Homo sapiens: one gene and its partners. Changing the gene in region 4 together with the main gene of any one other region gives a genetic interaction. Each region holds a gene or a part of one and is shown on either strand. Other genes may lie near its edges.

Region 1 (3,043 bases), on a different chromosome or scaffold from region 4:
TCCCCAGGTATGGGCGTCCTCAGCGGCGGGGTCCCCGGGTGAAGGAGGAAGCTGCTGGTGCATGGGTGCCGGCTGCCCTCCACCCACAGGGCCCACTTTGGTGGTAGTGGCTGTGTCAGTCTTGCTCTGTCCTACAGGGCTGCCGGCAATGGGGGGGCCTGGCCCCGGCCCCTGTGAGGACCCCGCGGGTGCTGGGGTAAGAGGCTCTAGACCCTTCACCTGTCAGTCACCTGAGGGAGGCTGAGGCCAAGCCCCATCCCTCAGAATCAAGGCTTGCAAGCCCCCCTCACCTGCCCAGTCTCTGTCCACACCCCTCGGGCTGAAGACGGCCCTGACCAGGCCCTGGGCCTCAGCGACCACCCCTCCCCCTCCTGCCTGGACCCAGGGAGCAGGTGCAGGGGGCTCCGAGCCCCTGGTGACTGTCACCGTGCAGTGCGCCTTCACAGTGGCCCTGAGGGCACGAAGAGGAGCCGACCTGTCCAGCCTGCGGGCACTGCTGGGCCAAGCCCTCCCTCACCAGGCCCAGCTTGGGCAACTCAGGTGGGCCAGAAAGCCCCCGGTGGCTGCGGTGGAGCTGGGCACCGCCCCGACTGAGGCAGCTGCTGGAAGAGGGGGTGGCAGAGGTCACTGCCCTCCCTGCAGGCCCCACCCAGGAGGCCCCCTCTGAGGAATCTCTTTGCAGTTACCTAGCCCCAGGTGAGGACGGGCACTGGGTCCCCATCCCCGAGGAGGAGTCGCTGCAGAGGGCCTGGCAGGACGCAGCTGCCTGCCCCAGGGGGCTGCAGCTGCAGTGCAGGGTGAGCCAAGGGCGAGGCAGGGGCAGGGGCACCCTGAGGGGCGGTGGAGGCCCCTCCTCCCAGTGCCCGGCCCGACCTGCAGCCCACTCTCCTGCCTCAGGGAGCCGGGGGTCGGCCGGTCCTCTACCAGGTGGTGGCCCAGCACAGCTACTCCGCCCAGGGGCCAGAGGACCTGGGCTTCCGACAGGGGGACACGGTGGACGTCCTGTGTGAAGGTAGGGTGGGCATGGCCCTTCCCAGGCAGCACCGTGGTGCCCGGGGTGTGGGGGGCTTAGAGCTCGGCCTGTGCTGTGAGCAGACGTGGCACCCAGAGGCCACGCCTGGGTAACGCCCTGCAGAGCCCGATGTCCCCCTTGCAGTGGACCAGGCATGGCTGGAGGGCCACTGTGACGGCCGCATCGGCATCTTCCCCAAGTGCTTCGTGGTCCCCGCCGGCCCTCGGATGTCAGGAGCCCCCGGCCGCCTGCCCCGATCCCAGCAGGGAGATCAGCCCTAATGATGCTGTGTCCATGATGCTTTTAATAAAAACAACCCCCACTGCAGTCTCACCCTCCAAGTGGGTGTGGGAGGCCGGGCTGGCCCAGCAGAAGCCCCCAGGCCTGGACTCCATCCATCTGCTCAGACAACAGCAGGGAGAGCGGGGGTCCAGGTGGGGCAGCTCCCTCCCTTCCACCCCTCTCCGCCCCTCCTGAGGCCCCATCAGGAGCAGGACCCCTGTGCCTCCGTGGTCTTGCCCTGTTTGCAGGCAGCATGTGGCCCTGCAGTCACACAGCCTGGAGACACCACGAGTCCTGGCGGCCTGTGTGCAGAAAGGCACCTACGGCCCTGGAAGCCCAGTTGCGGAAGGAGGTTGGGGGAGGGACGCCGGGAGGGGAGGTCATGCAGCCTCTGTGGCCAGCACCACCCTGACGGTGCCCTGGAGGTGGCTGTCACCTGACCGTGGGCAGAGCCACAGAGCAAGGCCCCACGGCGCTCAGGGCTCAGGAAGCCTCCAGCATCCGGGACGCAGCTGCCTGTGGGCTCTGTGGGGGCCCACCTCCGCCTTCCCACTAGTCCTGCAACCAGAAGAGCTGGACCAAGGCAGCCCCCACCACCGCCACCAGGGCCAGCACCATGAACACCACTTTGGCCACCCAGACGCCGTAGCTCTCTGCCCGCCACTGAGCCGGCGCATCGGCCGGGATCATCCCGGTCAGGTTCAGCATGTAGCCCAGTGTCCAGCCAATGTCCACACCGCCCGCCTGCGGGACACACGGCTGCTCAGGGCTGCGGGGCAGCTACCCCAGGACCACGACCTGCCCACGCCCACGCCCCGCCCACGCCCAGGGGAGGCAGTCACCTGCTTTCGGAACTCGAGGCTGGGCCAGGTCTCCTCGCTGAACCCGTAGCCCTCGTGCAGGAGGGTGAGGATGTACAGGCCTGAGGCACAGTAGTCCCGCAGCCAGCGGTCCTGCCCAGGGTAGCTGGCCTCCACCTGGGGCCCAGGAGACCAAGAGGCGAGGTGAGGGCCCCTGATCCCCAGTCATGCGGGGACCGCCCCATCTGTCCTGGCCAACCTGAGCACGCAGACAACAAGAGGGTGCCGGGCAGTGGTAGAGAGCCCCTCCCTGGCCCCACCGACCAGTTACGTGGTGCGGGTTGCGGCCCCTTCTTGGCGGGCCAGAGGCTGGGCCCAGCTGCGGCCGTGGCCACAGCCTCCTACCTGGAGTGGCACGGCCTGGAGCTGTCCTCTGCCCTTGCCTCCCCCGGCCCTGCTGGCCGTGCTGCCCAGAATGAGGCTCCAGCATCCTGCCCGAGGCAGCCCTGTACCCTCAGGGACCCTCGCTGCAGCCAGGGAGCCCAGGGCCCACCCACCAGTTTCCAGGGCCTCTGGCAAAACTCCCAGATGGTGGCGTTGACCGTGCTCAGGGGCTGCCTGGAGGTGAGGTTCAGGAAGTGGAAGGTGTAGTAGAAGTTGGAGAAGGCCTGAGTGAGAGGGGAGGTGGCTGTGCCTTCGCTGTGGCCACGCTGGGCCAGATCCACCCCACCCGGGCTCCCAGAGCCCCTAAGAGCCAGCCTGGGCCCCTCCTGGGCCTGCTGGAGTCAGACAGGCACCTGAGGCCTCACAAGGAAGCCCGGACCCCTGGTGGGGGCAGTGTAGGTGCTCACATAGAACTGGCCCCGCAGCGGGGGCTGGTAGACCCCGTCAAAGGCGCAGTCCTCCTGGCCCTGGCAGCTGGAGAAGTTGAAAAGTTCCCGGATGGCTG
Region 2 (4,296 bases), on a different chromosome or scaffold from region 4:
CCCAGATTTTGAATATTTTGAGTAGGGATGCTCAGCCTGGACCTGCATCTCTCCAGAAGCACTACAGTACTTACAAGGTACTTACATATATTGTTTCATTTAGTCCTCACTAAGGACTATGTGAGATTGGCATTACTGTCCCCATTTTGCAGACTGTCCAGCTTACAGACTGACAAAGCCAATAATCAAATCCAAGCGGGTCTGCCCAAAGCCCCATGTCACACTGCTTAAAATTCAAGTCTGCACTTCAGTTCTTCGTTAGTCTCCTTTATGTCAGTAACTAAGGTTCAGATTAAATACTCGCTTTATTTTCAAAAGAAAACCATTCCTTCAAACAATTTTCTACCAATTTCTCTGCTGAAATGGTACTTATTTATAACACAGTACCTTAAAATGAGTCCATAAGGAACTGGAAAATGTTATTTTTTTTGAAGTTTTACACATTCAGTACACTTTGCATCAATAATAAAAGTATATTCATAAAAGTATACTCACGTATAGGATATTAAGAATCTAACACTGCTTATATTTAGGCATAAATGTGACATAATATTCCACTTATTTCACAAGCAATTACTATAACTTAATTCCAATAGTTATTCTAATACCTTCTTGTTCTTTCTAGAGTTTCGGGTTTGTTTTTTAAGTGGTTTCTCCCATTTTTCTCACTTTCAATTACATAAAACTGTATTCTACTTTCAGTCCAAATTTTGTGTTGCCTATATTAAATCCATTTCCCCAATATATCTAGACTGCTGCCAACTAGAGTTAATAAATTTTGAATGACTGCTCAGGATTTATTCCCTTTATTTTTATATTCTGTTATTTCCTTATACAATAGAGTATGAATGAAAACAAGTATCTACAAGACCAGTATTTCTTCAATTTTCACCTTGTGAAAGCTGGGTATTAAAATAAAAATAAATTAAACTCTTGGGCTGGGAACTCCCTGACCATATTTCTCTCACTGTGCTGGGTGTCTCTACGCCCCCTTTCAATCTTGAGTACATATAGTCAATAGGCACTGCATGCACTGGGGGAGCACCTGGCCCATCAAGGGCCTTTCCCAGAGGAAGTAATGAATAAAGAACAGATGAAGAGCTGAGTAGTGGTTCCTGACCTGCCAGCAAGAGAGGAGGGGCAGCATTTTAGATTTGAGTCATCTCCACTGGAGTCTGCCAGTAATCAGTTGTGTGACTTTAAGCATATCAATTAGAAACAGAAAGCTTGGCATCCCGAAAAGAAAACCATTCCTTCAATTTTCTACCAATTTCTCTGCTGAAATGGTACTTATTTGTAACACAGTACCTTAAAATGAGTCCGCAGGGAACTGGAAAATGTTATTTTTTTGAAGTTTTACACATTCAGTATACTTTGCATCAGTAATAAAAGTATATTAGTAAAAGTATACTCAAGTATAGGATATTACGAATTGAATTTCAGCAAGACTTGAATTTTACTCCTCATTATTTATCCAAAAAGGAAAAAAGATCCGAGGATTTGTAAGTGACGTGACCAAACTCCAAAGGCTGTTAGCGGTATCCGCATATTCAGGATGCAAATCACTCTCTAGTCAACTGCACTTGCTACTAAACTGTGATTCACTGGCTGTTAGTGGTATCCGCATATTCAGGATGCAACACCCTCTCTAGTCAACTGCTCTTTCCACTAAACTGTGATTCACTGGGTGCCGATTTCTTCATCTCAAGAGGTGATGATTACCCCCTTTGTAATACTACCTATCTCATAGGACTATGAAGACTAAAGAAAATAAGGTATACAAGAGCATTTAACAAATTTACCATACCACTTCATACTATTGTGGAGAGGGCCAAGAGACAAGAAATCTGGTAGCATTTAAAGTGCTAAGAGCACAAAATAGAAGTGTTATAAGGTCATCTCACCAGCCAGATCTATACTTTAGCTTGATTATACAATAAAAGCATTGACCTTGCCACTCTCCAAAACTATCAGCGCAAGCTACAATGCCCCCTCACACTGGCAATTTACCATGAGATTTCTAATCAATAATCAAAACATTGTATTGTATACTTCCTGCTCTGAACAACAGGTACCAAAATTTCAGCAGCCAGGTAGGTTGGAGTTCACAATCAGGCAGCCTAGAATTACACTCAGCCCACAAATATGTTTTGATCAACATAATTTTTAATGGCAAATTTTTAAACTAAATACATTAAAATCCACGACATGCAGTGGCTCACACCTGTAATCCCAACAATTTGGGAGGCCATGGCAGGAGTATCATTTGAAGGCAGGAGTTCAAGACCAGCCTAGGCAACATAGATAGACACCATCTCTACAAAATTTTTTTAAAAATTAGGCCGGGCGCAGTGGCTCACGCCTGTAGTCCCAGCACTTTGGGAGGCCAAGGCAGGTGGATCACCTGAGGTCGGGAGTTCGAGACCAGCCTGACCAACATGCAGAAACCCCGCCTCTACTAAAAATACAAAATTAGCCAGGCGTGGTGGCGCATACCTGTAATCCCAGCTACTCAGGAGGCTGAGGCAGGAGAATTGCTTGAACCCAGGAGGTGGAGGTTGCAGTGAGTCAAGATCGCGCCATTGCACTCCAGCCTGGGCAACAAGAGCGAAACTCCTTCCCACAAAAAAAATAAAAGCAACAACTAGCTAGTACATGGCCGGATGCAATGGCTCACCCCTGTAATCCCAGCACTTTGAGAGCCTGAAGCAGGCGGATCACTTGAGGTCAAGAGTTCAAGACCAGCCTGGCCAACACGGCAAAACCCTGTCTCTACTAAAAATACAAAAATTAGCTGGGCGTGGTGATGGGCACCTGTAGTCCCAGCTACTCAGGAGGCTGAGGCAAGAGAATCGCTTGAACCCGGGAGGCGGACATTGCAGTGAGCCAAGGTCATGCCACTGCACTCCAGCCTGGGCAACAAGAGCGAGACTTTGTCTCAAAAAAAGAAAAAAAAAAAAAACTAGCTACACATAGTGGCATGCGCCTGTAGTCCTAGCTATTGGGGAGGCAGAGGTGGGAGGATCACTTGAGCCCAGAATTCAAGGCTGTAGTGAGCTATTACCACGAAACTGCACTCTAGCCTGATAGGACGATACCCTGTCTCTAAAAGTTAAATAAATAAATAAGAATAAATTAAAATCCAGATTTCCAGCATCTTTTCCAAAAAGTGTCAAAAGATCCAAGGACACTGGGCCCACTTCCTCACATGGCAACAAGCAAGTGGAGCTGAGCAGCAACTGCTCCCTTTAGTTTGGGCCCGTGCTCTCCAGTTCATCAAGGCCCAGCCTACTCATCCTAGTACATAACAGGCATCGGACTTGGAGACCACTGAGGAAGATGCTCAAACAGAACAATAATAATAATTTAATGAAGATTTGTTTACTCTTTTTTGGCCAGTTTTTTGTGGCTCTATCACACATTAGCTCTGTGACTCTTAAGTAACATATTTAACCACTAAGCCTCTTAAATTTAACACAAGCTGAAATATGCTGACTTCTGAGTCAAAAAACTTCACAAAAACTTCGAACTCACAGAAACAAGTCAGGGCACCTCCCATAGGGAAAAAACGTAATGTGGCCACGAATGGTGGCTCACGCCTGTAATCCCAGCACTTTGAGAGCCCGAGGCAGGCAGATCACTTGAGGTCAGGAGTTTGAGACCAGCCTGGCCAACACAGCAAAACCCCGTTTCTACTAAAAACACAAAAATTGGCCAGGCGTGGTGGCACCTGCCTATAGTCCCAGCTACTTGGGAGGCTGAGGCAAGAGAATCTCTTGAACCCAGGAGGCAGAGGTTGCAGTCAGCCAAGATCATGCCACTGCACTCCACCCTGGGTGATAGAGCAAGACTGTCTCAAAAAAAAAAAAAAAAACAAGTAACGTGACAGAAGTCCTTGTCATATAATAATTTGACATCTACAACTGCGTCCGTAACAGTAAGGCCTATACATCAGAATAACAGATTGCCAGCAAATTATCTTAGGCTGAATCATATAAATCCACTCAACTGCAAAAGTTTCTGAAGTCTTCAGGTATAAGTCAATAAGCAAAACAAGCTCCCCCACCAAAAAAGAAAAACATTTAAAGTAACAGATAAGGCTATGAGCTCCTTTAGTGCAAAGGCCACTTCCATTCCTCGTGATCCCTCCTGTCTCACAATGACTGGCACACTGAAGCTACAGCTCAAGGGCAAGTTTCTCTCTGAAGCCTTTCCAGAGGGTCCGCATCCACATCACAAAGAACAAGCAACATGGTGTAGTAATGAAGAGTGCCGATCTCAGTGTTCAGCAGATAA
Region 3 (4,296 bases), on a different chromosome or scaffold from region 4:
ATGAAGATACTTTAACTTCCCTTGGAAATTCATTGCCTTAAAAAAGCAACAACAACAAAAAAGTTCATTAAAATTAACAATATAAAATAGTGCCTTTTTAAAAGGCTCCATTATGGCTGCCTCTAGGGTTCTTGATAATTCCATAAATATTCCTGAAGCTGAGAACTGTTAGTTTCCTTCACTCCTCTCTCCATGGGACGCCCATTAAATCTATCTCAAAGAGTAATATGAAAAATATTCTAAAGGGATAAGTGAACCACTCCTTGTTCCTAATGGTCATAACATGAAAACCTATATCATTTTCCAAGCTTGCCATTACCCTATCATTTTCACCTCACACAGCTCCTTGCACACCAGGCAATCAATATATCCTGAATGGTGATAAAGTCCTAAAGTAAACATTCATTTTCAAGCATACATGAACTATATCACAGCTCATAGCATACTGCATAGTTCATAATCTTTTCTATAGAGGCAAAATATAATTTTATTAAGACACTAAAATGAATCATCATGAAAACATATAAAGAATGCAGAGCCCTACTGAGTAAAGATATGGAAGAAATTTAGAAGACAGGGAAAACAAAGGCACTTAAACATGAACATGATATATTTAATTGCTTAAAACAATATCAACCAGTCCAAGGGATGGTTCTGACATCAAAATAATAGCAGCACAAGGAGGAAAAGGCCCTCCTGCACACAGATATTCCACCTCAGACATACACTCACATGTCATTTAACAAAAGGGGCATGTTCTGTGAAATGTGTCCTTAGGCAATTTCATTATCCTGTGAACATCAGAGGGTAGGTTCACAAACCTAGATGGTATAGCTTACTACGCATCTAAGCTATACAGTATAGCCTTTTGTTCCTAGGCTACAAACCTGTACAGCATGCTATCGTACTGAATACTTAAAGCAATTGTAACATGATGGTAAGTATTTGTGTATCTAAACATAGAAAATATACAGTAAAAATACAGTATAAAAGACAAAAAATGGTATACCTGTATAAGAGCACTTATTGTAAACAAGGTAGGCAGGACTGAAAGTTGCTTTGGTTTAGTCAGTGAGTGAGTGGTGAGTGAATGTGAAGGCCTGAGACATTACCGTACACTACTATAGAGTTTATAAACACTATACACTTAGGCTACGCTGAATTTATAAAAAATATTTTCCTTTTGGCCAGGTGCAGTGGCTTATGCCTGTAATCCCAGCACAGTTTACTGTAACATTTTTACTTCATAAACTTTTGCATTTTTAACTTTTGACTCTTCTGTAATAACACTTAAACACAGTGTACAGCCATACAAAAACATTTTCTTTCTTTATATCCTTATTCTATAAGCTTTCTTCTATTTTTTAATTTTTAATTTTTTTACTTTTTAAACTTTTTTTGTTAAAAACTAAGACACAAACCCACACATTAGCTTAGGTCTGTACAGGGTGAGGATCATTAATGATCCTATCTTCCACCTCTACATCTTGTCCCACTGGAAGGTCTGCGGGGGCAATAACATGCATGGAGCTGTCATCTCCTGTGATAACAATGCCTTCTTTTGGAATATTTCCTGAAGGACCTGCCTGAGCCTGTTTTACAGTTAACCTTATTCTAAAATAATGATTAAAATAAAATAATTAAAAGTATAATACATTTAAAAATAAAGTAAAATAATGATTAATAGTAAATACATAGTGATTTATTATTGTTTTATTTTCAAGTATTATGTATCATATATAATTGTATGTGCTATACTTTTTATATGACTGGCAACACAGGTTTGCTTCCATCAGCATCACCATCAACATGTGAGCAATGCTATGACATCATTAAGTGATAGGGATTTTTCGGCTCCATTATGATCTCATGGGACTACCATCATATACATGGTCTGTTATTGACCAAAGCATCATTATGCAGGACATGACTCTACATACTAATTGTTCATGAGCAATAACACTGGGAAAACTGTCTCAAAGCATAATTCTAATTCTGGGTCAGCAAAATCCTCTTCAGAAATAAACACATAAACAAAAATCATTGCTTGGTAATGTTAATTTAAGATTTGATTATCTGTTTCAAATTCCTTGTTATTCACAAAAAGAATATACAATATACTTTGTATTTTCTTCTCCTGTACTTGGTAACATGAGCTAAGGATACAATGAGATAACAGACAAGTCCACTCTGAGGAATCCTAAGCTGTTCCCTACAGTCAACTCCTATGCAGGTGTTCAGACTTTGTAACAAGAAAACAGCATCTCCTATCAAATGATGATTCCACAATCATGAATATACAATCGTTTTTCTATGTGGCAGTTATTTGAGACATATGGAAAGGCCATAATTTCTCTGTCTAGCAGGCATTCAATCCCAAGATGGTAAGCATCCTCCTATTAAAAAAGGGCTACATAATTCTCTCATACCTTAAAAATCCTAAAATAGTCAAAATACAAGGCTTCGTGTTATTTCACTCAATTTTTGTTACTATATCCTAAAGAACAGTTTTCTGAGTTATAGAAGATAGTCAAAATCAGAAATAATTACTTTAAAATGTTACTTTCCTTTATCAAATTATTTGGTAGCAGATTTTTAAAGCTGAAATCAAAGATAACCAAAGAAAATTGGCTTGTTTTTTCTATAACTTAATGTTAAACTAAATTTGGGCTGAAGATGCCTCTGCTCCTTAAGTCCTTACCAAGGAATTGCAACTTCATTTACTATATAAGCTAACGGAAAGCCTAACAGTAGAATTAAACTTTTGTAACCAAATAGCTGAGTCTCAGTCAGTCACAGGTGGCCAACTAATCAGATCATCTTCAAATAAGGCAAATCCCAAGCTGTAATCAATCAAGCCATTTCTGTACCTCACTTGCATTTTCTGTTCATAAATGCTCCAGCCCATGTTTTTAAGTGAGCTCTCTGAAGCTCTCTGGTTCTGAGGGTTGCCTGATTTGGGAATAGTTCTCTGCTGAATTATATTTTGCTAAATTAAATTTGCCTCAAGCTTTTATTGTAACAATAGTAAAAGCCAGTATCATAAAATTTTGTACCTTACCAGAAAACCAGATGAATTATCCAGCAGACACCTTAGACGACATATGAAGCACCTCTCCATTAAAGGAGAGTTTTCTGGAGGAATCTGGTCTGGGTTATAACAGACTACTGTCTGGGGGAGACCAGTGGCTTCTGTAGAAATAAAGGCAAAACAAAATTTACTTTCCATTTTGCTGTAAAATTAAGCACTTGAATAGGTAAAATTTGTATTAGTTTCTAAACTGGAGTCTGTGTTCTGAATACAAAAAAATCATTTTCAAAAGAGCTAATGACAAGAAACTAAAAGTTTATTAAATATCACTTTTATCAGATAGAACTTGCATAATTTTTTAAATTTTTATTGAGCTATCACTGTCAACAATTTTCATATTTTCTAATGCATTTTTGTTTTCTTAACACTTTAACAAATTTCCAAAAACATTTTTTGCATTGAGAAAAGCATTTTTATACTTGCATATGCTAGCTTACTTTTTTCTTTGGTGCATTTTAAACACAATAATTTACATGCACTCAGGTATCAACCTTGTACCTTCCTTCCATCTTTCATGAAGGTACTACTTATTTTTATAAAATACATTACTGACTATGGCAATACTCTGTTGCCTGAAACTCATTAAATGGCTCTCATTTGCCAAAATATTCCTTAGCTCATCAGGCTCTTTGTGACCTAGCTGTGGCCTATGATTGCAGACTTTACATCTTTCCACTACTTCCCTATCATGGAGTTCTATGACCCTACAGGTTCCCAGCCTCCTTTCACAGACTCATATTTAAAAACTACCAACACTATTTTTTGTACCATCAATTCTTACCTTCAATTCCTTGTCCAGACTCTGTACACTGAGAAGGATTTAATGCCCAGTGTAGCTGACGCTGAAATTCAGCTCGGTCTTCGGTATGGATAAGTTCATATACACTCTGATGTATGACATCAGACTAAAGAAAAAAGATACAAGGAATACAACAAAAGGACTGATTAAAAAATATGGCTAAATTAATTTTAAAGCCTATTTAGATTAGTGGGTGCTTGCTAGTGGTGATGAATACGAATTGAATGATTCCTAAAATTCCCTAGTCACCTAAGATAGAACCTAAGGTAGAAAAAGCTAAAGAGACTGGCACTACAACAGATAAGCCAAAAGTTACTTGTCATCAGTTCCCAACATGAATGCTCTTGCTCAAATAAGTCACATCCCCATTCCTTAAATGCAACATATTAAAATCTGTTTATGTTCC
Region 4 (5,093 bases):
ATAATTATCCACAGGAGAAATAATACTCAAAAATAATAAAGTGTAATGAGGCCTAAAAAATGCATGCTACTTTTCCCCCCTCATATATATATATATACACCCTCAACCTCTTGGGCTCAAGTGATCCTCCTGCCTCAGCCTCTCAAGTTGCTGGGACCACAGCAAGTGCAATCACACCCTGCTGATTTTCTTATTTTTTCTAGAGAAGGGGTCTTGCCATGTTGCCCAGGCTCTTCTTCATATTAAAAGCCATATAAAGTACATAATGAGGAGGACAGGTGATGAGACCTGCTCCACTCTGCTCTGGTTAGTACATACCTAGAGTTGTGCACTTTAGTAAGGGGACAGATATGCTACTGAAGGACATATTTAGCTCTCTGGTGAAGGAATACAAAAGTATTTCATGTGATAGGCAGCTCAAAGAACTGGATTGCCTGGATCACATTTCCACCAACTTCTGGCTTCATTAATTTCTATGCATACTCCATGTCTCAATTTAAAGGCAACTGTTCTAGAAAGCCTTTTTGAAAACAAATGCTAAGCCAAGGCATGTCATTCTATAATAATTTCTTTTTTGATCATAATCTTCCTTACTGGAGTAGTTTTGCAAGGGAAAATATGAGCTTTTTGTTCTTCTGAATCTATGTCACTCTACATAAAGTTTGGCTCAAAGTATGTTTTTAATAAGTATCAAATGAATGAATGAATCTCAACCAGACTTTAAGAAGCTGTATTTCTTTCTTTTTTTTTTTTTTTTTTTTTGAGACAGTCTCACTCTGTCACCCAGGCTGGAGTGCAGTGGCGTGATCTCGGCTCCCTTGCAAGCTCCGCCTCCTGGGTTCACGCCATTCTCCTGCCTCAGCCTCCCGAGTAGCTGGGACTACAGGCGCCCGCCACCAGGCCCAGCTCATTTTTTGTATCTTTTTAGTAGAGACAGGGTTTCACTGTGTTAGCCAGGATGGTCTCGATTTCCTGACCTTGTGATCTGCCCGCCTCAGCCTCCCAAAGTGCTGGGATTACAGGCGTGAGCCACCGCGCCCGACCTAGAAGCTGTATTTCTTTTGACTCAACTGTGACACTTGCCCAATAGGTCCTATGTTTTTCATATGATGGGTGCTTACTTACATTTATTGACATATTGAACAATTATTATGGAAAGGCTTAAGATGTCTGAGTTAAAATTTTCTTCCCTGAGGAGCAAGGAGAAGTCAAACAGTCATATCTCACTAAACTGTCCTTTGATTTAAAACAAACTTACCAGCTGAATCCTCCCACAGTCTTTCAATACAGACGATATGTGGTTGTAGGTTGGCCTCTGCAGGTTCCACATAGACGTAATCTCCAACATGGTACATGCTGTTTTTAAAGCTACAGTCCTGGCTGTATGTGCGATGTAAGCCTGAGAGGCCTGCAGCACCAGAGGAATCTTCACTCTTTTCAGCTTCTTAGGTAAAAAAATAAATAAATAAAGGAAAAAGGTACTCACCAAAGGGATGCTGAAGTCAGATGTAGGGTTCAAACAACACATACTAATAATACATTTAATACATTTAATTCCATTTGCAACATGCGAAGGCAGGAATCAGCAATAGTATGATCTTCACATTCCTAATAGCCTCTACTCAAAACTATCTTTGAATTACAACCATCATTAATTTAAATGAATATATAACTACACAAAGGATGTAGAGAATAAAAACATCACCTTACTAATATATGATCATATGGACATTTTGGATAATATCGAAAGGCACAAAGAAGTACGTATGTCGTTTCGAATCAAGTAATTCTAGAGATAATCTCTGATATACTTCATCCCCACCTTAATGCTTCTTAATGTGTTTCATTTCACTAAGTTATTACACGAATATGACACATTTAATGGAGTCTTAGAATTGAAGAAATATAGAATACATATATTCTACAATATACTATAAACTATATCTAGTATATATACTTAATATATCAAGAACACTAGCCCTGAGAGGAAATGCTTTTCAAAATGACTTTTATTTTTATTTATTTATTTTTTTCGAGACGGAGTTTCGCTCTTGTTGCCCAGGCTGGAGTGCAATGGCACAATCTCAGCTCACCACAACCTCTGCCTCCCAGGTTCAAGCAATTCTCCTGCCTCAGCCTCCCGAGTAGCTGGGATTACAGGCATGCACCACCACGCCTGGCTAATTTTGTATTTTTAGTAGAGATGGGGTTTCTCCATCTTGGTCAGGCTGGTCTCGATCTCTCGACCTGAGATCCGCCTGCCTCAGCCTCCCAAAATGCTGGGATTATAGGCGTGAGCCACCGCGCCCAGATGACTTTTATTTTTGTTAAGTAAAACTTATTAATAGTTCCAGTACAGGCCGGTAGCGGCAGCTCACGCCTGTAATCCCAGCACTTTGGGAGGCCGAGGCGGGCGGATCACTTGAGGTCAAGAAGAGTTCAAGGCCAGCCTGGCCAACATGGTGAAACCCCATCTCTACTAAAAATATTAAAAAATTAGCCAGCATGATGGCAGGTGCCTGTAGTCCCAGCTACTTGGGAGGTTGAGACAGAAGAATCGCTTAAACCTGGGAGGTGAATGTTGTAGTGAGCCAAGATCAGGCCACTGCACTCCAGCCTGGGTGACAGAGCAATACTCCATTTCAAAAGAAAAAAAAAAAAGTTCCAGTACAAGCTATCGTTTGCAAATATCACAGGGTTTTTATTGAGGATAAAGCTTTGCCCAAATCTTTGATTACTTCCTTAGGTTAATTTCCCATAAATGGAAGAGCTAATAATAAGCATTTTAAATGTTATTTATTTTATTCCTCCTGAAACATTAAATTTTCTTTTTCTTTTTTTAGACAGTCTCACTCTGTCACCCAGAGTCTTGAACTCCTGACCTCAAGTGATCTGCCCGCCTTAGCCTCCTAAAGTGCTGGGATTACAAGCGTGAGCCACCGTGCCTGGCTATCTAAATTTTAAAATAGTTTTTCTAGTTCTGTGAAGAATGTCATTGGTAATTTCATACGATTAGGACTGAATCTGTAAATTGCTTTGGGCAGTATGGCCATTTTAATAACATTGATTCTTCCTATCCATGAGCATGGAATGTTTTCCCATTTGCATCTGTCATCTCTGATTTCTTTGGGCAGTGAGTAATTCTCATTGTAGGGATCTTTCACCTCCCTGGTTAGCTGTATTTCCAGGTATTTTATTCTTTTTGTGGCAATTGTGAATGACAATGCGTTCCTGATCTAGCTCTTGGCTTGGCTGCTATTGGTGTATAAGAATGATAGTGATTTTTGTATACTGATTGTGTATCCTGACACTTTGCTGAAGTTTATCAGCTGAAGGAGCTTTTGGGCTGAGACTATGGGTTTATTAGATATAGAATTAAGTCATCTGCAAAGAGACGTAGTTTGACTTCCCTCTTCCTATTTGAATACCCTTTATTTCTCTCTCTTACCTGACTGCCCTGGCCAGGACTTCCAGTACTATGTTGAATAGGAGTGGTGGGAGACAGCATTCTTGTCTTGTGTCAGTTTTCAAAGGGAATGTTTCCAGCTTTTGGTTATTTCAGCATGACGTTGGGTGGCTTTGTAATAGATGGCTCTTATTATTTAGAAGTATGTTTCTTTAATACCTAGTTTATCTAGAGTTTTTAATATGTCAAAAAGCCTTTTCTACATCTATTGAGATAATGTAGTTTTTGTCTTTGTTTTTTTTTTTTTTTTTTTTTTTTTGAGACGGAGTCTTGCTCTTGTCTCCCAGGCTGGAGTGCAGTGGCATGATCTCGGCTCACTGCAACCCCCGCCTCCCAAGTTCAAGCAATTCTCCAGCTTCAGCCTCCTGAGTAGCTGAGATTACAGATGCCCACCACCATGCCCGGCTAATTTTTGTATTTTCAGTAGAGATGGGGTTTCACCATCTTGGCCAGGCTGGTCTTGAACTTCTCACCTCGTGATCCACCCGCCCCGGCCTCCCAAGCTGTTGGGATTACAGGCGTCAGCCACTGCGCCCGGCCTTTTTTTTTTTTTTTTTTTTTGACATAGTCTTGCTCTGATGCTCTGATGCCCAGGCTGGAATGCAGTGGCGCCATCTCGGCTCACTGCAACCTCTGCCTCCCAGGTTCAAGCAATTCTCCTGCCTCAGCCTCCCAAGTAGCTGGGATTACAGGTGCCCACGACCATGCCCGGCTAATTTTTGTATTTTTAGTAGAGATGGGGTTTCACCATCTTGGCCAGGCTGGTCTTGAACTCCTGACCTTGTGATCCACCCGCCTCAGCCTCCCAAGGTACTGGGATTACAGGTGTGAGCCACTGCACCAGGTTTTTTTTTTTTTTTTTTTTTTAAGACTTGAGATGGATTCTCGCTCTGTCGCCCAGGCTGGAGTGCAGTGGTGCGATCTTGGCTCACTGCAGTCTGCCTCCTGGGTTCAAGTGATTCTCCTGCCTCGGCCTCTCGAATAGCTAGGACTACAGGTGCGTGCCACCACACCTGGCTAATTTTTGTATTGTTTCTAGAGACAGGGTTTCACCATGTTGGTCAGGCTGGTCTCGAACTCCTGACCTCAGGTGATCCACCCACCTTGGCCTACCAAAGTGCTGGGATTACAGGCATGAGCCACCACACCTGGCTGTCTTTAGTTCTTTTTTATGTGATGAATCACATTTATTGATTTGCGTATGCTGAACCAACCTTGCATCCCAGGGATAAAGCCTACTTGACCATGGTGGATTAGCTATTTGATATACTGCTGGATTTGGTTTGCTAGTTATTTTCTTAAGGATTTCTGCATTAATAAACATCAAGGATACTGGCCTAGTTTTTTCTGTTATCTCTGCCAGGTTTTGGTATCAGGATGATGCTGGCCTCAAAGAATGAGTTGGGGAGGAGTCCTTTCTCCTCAGTTATTTGGAACAGTTTCAGTAGAAATGGTACCAGCTCTTCTTTGTACATCTGGTAGAATTTGGCTGTGAATTCACCTGGTCCTGGGCCTTTCTTGGTTGCTAGGCTATACATTACTAATTCAATCTCAGAGCTTGTTATTGGTCTGTTCAGGGATTCAAGTTCCTCCTGGTTTCAGTCTTGCGAGGGTGTATGTGTTCAGG

The links. A genetic interaction does not mean that the proteins touch.
Region 1: changes in PBRM1 (region 4) and ENTPD8 together harm fitness more than expected from each alone (negative genetic interaction), as found in Homo sapiens cells (one large-scale study listed by BioGRID).
Region 2: changes in PBRM1 (region 4) and MAPKAP1 together harm fitness more than expected from each alone (negative genetic interaction), as found in Homo sapiens cells (one large-scale study listed by BioGRID).
Region 3: changes in PBRM1 (region 4) and AHR together harm fitness more than expected from each alone (negative genetic interaction), as found in Homo sapiens cells (one large-scale study listed by BioGRID).

The regions. Positions count from the first base shown.
Region 1 is NC_000009.12:137,433,068-137,436,110, forward strand, and holds the end of ENTPD8 (ectonucleoside triphosphate diphosphohydrolase 8), read right to left. Parts: coding exon 2,946-3,043; intron 2,763-2,945; coding exon 2,652-2,762; intron 2,272-2,651; coding exon 2,137-2,271; intron 2,039-2,136; coding exon 1,847-2,038; 3' UTR 1,297-1,846; downstream 1-1,296. Other genes in the region: NOXA1 (NADPH oxidase activator 1), read left to right, coding at 1-7, 138-196, 386-540, 683-797, 898-1,012, 1,136-1,293. UniProt on the Homo sapiens protein: Canalicular ectonucleoside NTPDase responsible for the main hepatic NTPDase activity. Ectonucleoside NTPDases catalyze the hydrolysis of gamma- and beta-phosphate residues of nucleotides, playing a central role in concentration of extracellular nucleotides.
Region 2 is NC_000009.12:125,699,913-125,704,208, forward strand, and holds part of MAPKAP1 (target of rapamycin complex 2 subunit MAPKAP1), read right to left. Parts: intron 1-4,296. UniProt on the Homo sapiens protein: Component of the mechanistic target of rapamycin complex 2 (mTORC2), which transduces signals from growth factors to pathways involved in proliferation, cytoskeletal organization, lipogenesis and anabolic output.
Region 3 is NC_000007.14:17,329,652-17,333,947, reverse strand, and holds part of AHR (aryl hydrocarbon receptor), read right to left. Parts: intron 3,997-4,296; coding exon 3,873-3,996; intron 3,193-3,872; coding exon 3,062-3,192; intron 37-3,061; coding exon 1-36. UniProt on the Homo sapiens protein: Ligand-activated transcription factor that enables cells to adapt to changing conditions by sensing compounds from the environment, diet, microbiome and cellular metabolism, and which plays important roles in development, immunity and cancer.
Region 4 is NC_000003.12:52,587,812-52,592,904, forward strand, and holds part of PBRM1 (protein polybromo-1), read right to left. Parts: intron 1,445-5,093; coding exon 1,259-1,444; intron 1-1,258. UniProt on the Homo sapiens protein: Involved in transcriptional activation and repression of select genes by chromatin remodeling (alteration of DNA-nucleosome topology). Required for the stability of the SWI/SNF chromatin remodeling complex SWI/SNF-B (PBAF).